2 linked regions of the Homo sapiens genome follow. The protein of the gene in region 1 purifies or fractionates together with the protein of each later gene. This does not show direct contact. Each region holds a gene or a part of one and is shown on either strand. Other genes may lie near its edges.

Region 1 (3,500 bases):
ACTCTCACCCAAAACACGCTTTGTAAAAGCAAATAAGATGTCAAGACAGTGGATCCGGTCACCACTCACCATGGGCAGATCCATGGCAATGAGCTGGACTTTGTTGGGTTTTGCTATGAGAAGAGGAGGATCCAGGGCATCTGCAAAATCAGAAAGTTTGGCAAACTCTATAAACTGGGTCGCATCGGGATCAAACTTCTCCCAAACCTCATAGAACATCTCAAAGTCATCCTCACTCAGAGGCTCTGCACTTTCTTCAGTAGCAACACTGAAGTTCTCCAGGATGACCGCGATGTACATGTTCACCACAACCAGGAAGGATATGATGATGTAACTGACAAAAAAGAAAATCCCAACAGATGGGTTCCCACAGTCTCCTTTAACTGAGCTTCCAGGGTGATCTTTGTCAGGGTCACAGTCTGGAGGTCCACTATTAAGAATAGGTGCTAGCAATCCATCCCAGCCAGCAGAGGTTGTAATTTGGAACAGGCAGATCATGCTGTTGCCAAAGGTCTCAAAGTTGAACATGTCATCGATCCCAACTTCCCTCTTAACATAGGCAAAATTGGACATCCCAAAGATGGCGTAGATGAACATGACCAGGAAAAGAAGGAGGCCGATGTTAAACAACGCAGGAAGGGACATCATCAAAGCAAAGAGCAGCGTGCGGATCCCCTTTGCTCCTTTGATCAGACGTAGGATTCGGCCAATCCTGGCAAGACGGATCACTCGGAACAGGGTAGGGGACACAAAATACTTTTCTATCAGTTCAGCCAGAAACATTCCTGTAGAAAATCAACAAATAACAAAAATATTGTTATACTTAATAGTAGCAAATGAAAGTTTACATAAGTACATTAGTTTTACAAAATGTGAACAGGACAGTTAGGTACATGTATATATGCAAATAATCTGCAATGTTTGTTGAGCAAAATGAAACTGGTATGTTTGGTGTTATAACATTTACATCTTTATATTAAATGAAGATAATAAGGGCCATTTTTCCTAGTTCAAGGAAAGCATCTATCAAAAAAATGACTCAACCCTGGAAGGTCCAAAGACATCATGAAGCATACAGTGGCCAAGTACAGAAATTAATTTATATGTCCAAAATACTAGTTCTAGTATTTGCATAAGAACTAAAGGTGTATGATTTTGGGTCAGGAATATGAGAGTTCTTTACTTTCTGAGATTCTATGTTATTTGGGAGTAGGCAGCGTGATGTACAGAAGAAAACATAGGCTTTGGAGACAGATGTACTTGGGACTGAATCCTGGCACTTGCTTTTATGCATGAGTAAATGGTGATAATATCAACTTTTTCTTGTGGTCAAACTGAACATTTACTAAGTCTTTTCTTCATGCTAGGCACAGTGCTAAGTGCATATATATACATAATCTGATTTAATCCTCACAATAACATTTTACAGAAAAATTCCTTGCAAAACCAGAGATTGGAGAGCTGAGGTAACTTCTCTTAGGTCACTGAGAAGGTAAGTAGTGTAAATAGGGAAGCTCCAGGTCAGATCTCAAATCTTACCTCTTAATGCTACCTCATAGCACTTATGTGAGAATCAAATGCAGTGGAACATTGTTACAATGTTCTATTCGACTAAAGAAAGTAGTTTAAAGAGTGCTATATAATTTTCCCCTCCATGTGAATGTTCTGTTTCCCCAAATAGGTAGAACCTTCTCTTAAATCTTCTTATATTTACTTCCAGTACCTCATTTAATATCTTATACATAAACACTGTATATATATATTTTTTCCAATAAATCTTTTGCATTCCTAGGACTTAATGTATGTATGTATCCTAACATTAATGTATCATTGATGATAACAAATCTGTTTTGGATTTTCAAACAAACTATCTGCTTCCAAAAAGAGATATTGCAAACCACAGAAAACTGTCTGCACCCAAAGATAACATGAAACTTATATATGTGTTATTATATATATAACTGCACATATACACTATTCCAATTATTTAAGAGGTCATATTTATGAATTATGTGACTACTTCAAATGATTTATGTATATATGTGTGTGGATTGATTGTTTATTCAAAGCAGTAACTGTCAATACCACAGGAGTATGACCAGGTACAAGACTATTCTACCAAAGTTGCAGTTATTGTCTTCTGAGATGAGAACAGATGAAAATATTAAATGAGAATAAATGAAAGCTGAAAATATAAATTCCTTGTATTCCACTCATCATTTCAAGCACAGCATGCAATTAGAGAAATGGCAAACTAAAACTAAAACAATGGACTATTAGATTTTTATTTGGGAGTTTGGGATGAATGAGAAAGATTAGTGAAAAACACCTCTAAAGTTTTAAAACACATATTTTTACCACTATATTCCTTAACTGAATAAAAGCACCTCTTCTTACCTACAATGGAGAGAATGACCACCACAAAATCAAAAATATTCCATCCAATAGTGAAATAGTAGTAACGAAGAGAGATCAGTTTCAGCACACATTCTCCAGTGAACAGAACAATAAACACCAGATTAATCCAGTACAGAATGTTTGTCATTTCTTGACTCTGGTCATCGGTTTCCACCATCATGGTGACCATGTTAAGGCAGATGAGGATCATGATGCTGATATCAAAGACTTGTTTGGTTACAAAATCAAAGACCATTCCTTGGAATTTGTTCTGGAACAAATAATATGTAAAAGTTCCATTAGAAACCTTAAAAAAAATCGAATTCAATTCTTCTGATTTTAAGAAAGCAACAAAAAATGTAGCTTTTATAAAAACACATCTTTAATCCTCACAACATTTTACAAAAAAAAAAATTCCTTGCAAAACCAGTGATTGGAGAGCTGAGGTAACTTGCCTTAGGTCACAAAGCAGGTAAGTAGTGTAAATAGGGAAGCTCCATGTCAGATCTCAAATCTTATCTCTCTCTCTTTTTTTTAATTTTTTTTATTTTTTGAGATGGAGTCTCGCTCTGTTGCACAGGTTGGAGTGCAGTGGCACGATCTTGGCTCACTGCAACCTCTGCCTCCCGGGTTCAAGCGATACTCCTGCCTCAGCCTCCTGAGTAGCTGGGATTACAGGTACATGCCACCATGCCCGACTACTTTTTGTAATTTTAGTAGAGACGGGATTTCACCGTATTGGTCAGGCTGGTCTCAAACTCCTGACCTAATGATCTGCCCACCTCGACCTCCCAAAGTGCTGGAATTACAGGCATGAGCCACCATGCCCAGCCTCAAATCTTATCTCTTAATGCTACCTCATAGCATTTATGTGAGGGTCAAATGCAATGGAACATTATTACAATGTTCTATTCTATTAAAGAAAGTAGTGTATTTTATTTTCGTTTTATACTTGGAAGAAAATTTTGTATATTGTATATTCAACTGTATTCAAATGTATTTGTTTTATTTATACTCACATTGATACCAGGTTTTATAAACTCACGTATTATGTTCTCAGTGCACAGAACACCATCATGTTATGACGGACAGTTAGTAAATAT
Region 2 (3,500 bases), on another chromosome or scaffold:
TGACAGACAGACAGGAAAAAAGAGAGACAGACACAGAAGTACTGGATTCTACTGAATCCTCTGAGATAGGAATTATTAGTAGCCCATTTTAGAGATGGGCAAACTGAAGTTCATGGATGCTAAAGGACTTGCCCAATGTCACACAGCTTGTGAGCGGTATAAGCTGGAATGCAGGCCGGGCGCAGTGGCTCACGCCTGTAATCCCAGCACTTTGGGAGGCCAAGGCAGGTGGACCACCTGAGGTCAGGAGTTCGAGACCAGCCTGGCCAACATAGTGAAACCCCCGTCTCTACTAAAAATACAAAAAAAAAAAAAAAAAATTAGCGGGGCATGGTGGAGGGCCCCTGTAATCCCAGCTACTCAAGAGGCTGAGGCAGATAATTGCTTGAACCCGGGAGGCGGAGGCTGCAGTGAGCTGAGGTTGCCCCACTGCACTCCAGCCTGGGCGACAGAGCAAGACTCCATCTCAAAAACATAAATAAATAAATAAAATAAAATAAAGGCTGGGATGCAAACCTATGCCTGGCTACCTCTGTGGCTGCAATGTCCCCACACCGGAGGGAGGGCCAGACCCAGGGCCTGGTCCATGGAGGAGTCCCAGAAAGAATGGGACAGGCAGTGCAGAGGGAGGTTGGGGGGAAGCGGTCCCCCTGTGTCAACACCCTAGAGGGATGTCCAGGGCCCTGGCTGGGATGGGTGGCTCACCGGGGGTTAACCTGGCTGACGGGAATGTTGAGCCGGGCGGCGATGTCCTCCACAGTCTCGTTGCCCTCAGAGATGATGCCCACACCCTTGGCAATGGCCTTGGCCGTGATGGGGTGATCGCCGGTGACCATGATGACCTGCAGGCATTGTTTTTTAGGGATGGCCTCTCCCGCCCCACGCCTGGCTTTGCCTCCCCCAGCCACCCCAAGCCACACCTTGATGCCTGCGCTGCGACACTTGCCCACCGCGTCAGGGACGGCTGCCCGGGGTGGGTCGATCATGGACATGAGGCCCACAAAGCAGAGGTTGTCCGTGGTGAAGTTCACGTCATCACAGTCGAAGGCAAAGCCCTTGGGGAACTGCTCCTCGGGCAGGTAATAATGGCAGAAACCTAGTGGCAGGGAAGGGTTGGGGTGTGAGGGTCCCAGCCTCGGAACCTCCGCCCCATGCCCCTAGATGTCTGCATCGCCCGCATTCCATCTCCCCATCAGCAAGACGGCCAGTCAGCATTCATTTCCTAGGATACCTTCCCCTCTCATCCATCCATTCATTCATTCATTCATTCATTTACAGTATATTCTGGGAGGCCCTGGGCTGAGACAGGCTTTGGGCAGCATCACAACCCTCCTTGCCCTCCAGGGACCCCAGAGCCCGCCCGGCAGCCTCGCACCAAGCACGCGCTCGCCCAGGCCACCGAGCTCAAGGTAGGCATTCTGGAAGGCCTCCTTCATTTCCTCGTCCAGAGGCTGCTCCTTGCCCTGTAGCAGGATGGTGGAGCAGCGGTCCAGGATGCGCTCGGGGGCACCCTTCATCACCAGCAGGTATCGGTTGTCGTTGGGGTCCTCGGTCTCATGGATGGAGAGCTGGGGACCGATCAGAGGGTGGCGTGCCTGAGCCACGCAGACACCAGGAAGCTCCCTGCCCCATCCTGTCCCCTGTCCAGAGCCACGGGTGCCAGGATAGGCCCACACCAGGGCTCCCCCACACTCTCTCACAGAGACCTCTGCTCATTCCTGTCCGCTCTGTCTATGTCATGGATATATATTTCTTTTTCTTTTTCTTTTTTTCTTTTTTCTTTTTTTTTTGAGACAGAGTCTCGCTCTGTTGCCCAGGCTGGAGTGCAGTGGCACGATCTCAGCTCACTGCAACCTCCACCTCCTGGGTTCAAGCAATTCTCCTGCCTCAGCCTCCGGAGTAGCTTGGGATTACAGGCACCACCACCACACCCAGCTAACTTTTGTATTTTTAGTAGAGACGGGATTTTGCCATGTTGGCCAGGCTGGTCTTGAACTCCTGGCCTCAAGTGATCTGCCCTCATCGGCCTCTCAAAGTGCTGGGATAACAGGCATAAGCCACCACGTCTGTGCTCCCCTCCTCCCACCCTGTTTTTTTTTTTTAAGACAGGGTCTCACTCTGTCACCCAGGCTGGAGAACAGTGGCGAGATCACAGCTCACTGCAGCCTTGATCTCCCAGGCTCATGCGATCCTCCCGCTTCGGTCTCCCACGTAGCTGGGACCACAGGTCCACACCACCATGCCTGGCTAATTTTTTATAGAGACATGCTCTCCCTATGTTGCCCACGCTGGTCTCCATCTCCTGAGTTCAAGCGATCCTCCTGCCTCGGTCTCCCAAAGTGCTGGGATTACAGGCGTGAGCCACCACACCCAGCTGTATGCTTCCATTTTTATGAAATGTCCAGAATAGGCAAAACCATACGGACAGAAAGTAGGTTAGTGGTTGCTTAGGGCTGGGAGTGTCGGGGAGGAGGGGGCGGGTGACAGCTGAGAGATGTGGGGTTTCTTTTTGGAGGTGATGAAAATGCTCTAAAATTGACTATGTGGATGGCTGCCTATATCTGCGAATATACTAAAACTATTAAATTATACACTTAGAGGGACGAGCTATGGTATGTTAATTATATCTTAATAAAGTTATTTTAAAAGCTCTGAGTCAACTCCTGTCTCTCTTTGGCTGAGAGCCCCCTGGAGGCTTGTGTGCTCCTCAGAGTCACAGCCAAGTCCTCTCCATGCCCGTGGGGCCTGACAGGATCTGGCCAGCACCCACCACCCCCACCACGCTCCCTGGCTCCCAGCCCCTCTGCACTGGCTGGCTGGCTGGTGTTCAGATGCGTCAGCACACTCCCGCCTCTGGGCCTTTGCACAGGCTGTGCCTGCTACCGGAGCGCTCTTCCCCCAGACACCTGCAGGGTTCCCTCCCTCAGCACCACAACCACTACGATTACCTCCTCATGCCTTTGTTATTGTCTGTCTTCTAGAACCAGAGCGTAAGTCTCAGAGAGGGGTGACTTCACCATGTCACTCACTACTGTGTGTACACCCAGCACCCAAAACAGGGCCTAACATGTGGTGGCTGGTCAAAAAATGTATACTGAATGGGCCGGGCATGATGGCTTATGCCTGTAATCCCAGCACTTTGGGAGGCCGAGGTGGGTGGATCACTTGAGGTCAGGAGTTCAAGACCAGCCTGGCCAACATGATGAAACCCCATCAATACTAAAAATACAAAAACTAGCTGGGTGTGGTGGTGCACGCCTCTAATTCCAGCTACTCGGGAGGCTGAGATATGAGAATCACTTGAACCCAGAGACAGAGGTTGCAGTGAGCCAAGATCACACCACTGCCTTTTAGCCTGGGCGACAGAGCAAGACTCCATCTCAAAAAAAAGTTTACTGAGGCCGGGCGCGGTGGCTCATGCCTGTAATCCCAGCACTTTGGGAGGCTGAGGCGGGCAGATCACGAGGTCAGGAGATCGAGACCATCCTGGCTAACACGGT

The links. The genes of interacting proteins can lie anywhere in the genome.
Region 2: the proteins of SCN2A (region 1) and ATP1A3 purify together in Homo sapiens (affinity purification with mass spectrometry; one large-scale study listed by BioGRID and IntAct). This does not show direct contact.

The regions. Positions count from the first base shown.
Region 1 is NC_000002.12:165,385,914-165,389,413, reverse strand, and holds part of SCN2A (sodium channel protein type 2 subunit alpha), read right to left. Parts: intron 2,669-3,500; coding exon 2,398-2,668; intron 786-2,397; coding exon 1-785. UniProt on the Homo sapiens protein: Mediates the voltage-dependent sodium ion permeability of excitable membranes.
Region 2 is NC_000019.10:41,977,231-41,980,730, forward strand, and holds part of ATP1A3 (sodium/potassium-transporting ATPase subunit alpha-3), read right to left. Parts: intron 1,569-3,500; coding exon 1,376-1,568; intron 1,097-1,375; coding exon 921-1,096; intron 843-920; coding exon 706-842; intron 1-705. UniProt on the Homo sapiens protein: This is the catalytic component of the active enzyme, which catalyzes the hydrolysis of ATP coupled with the exchange of sodium and potassium ions across the plasma membrane.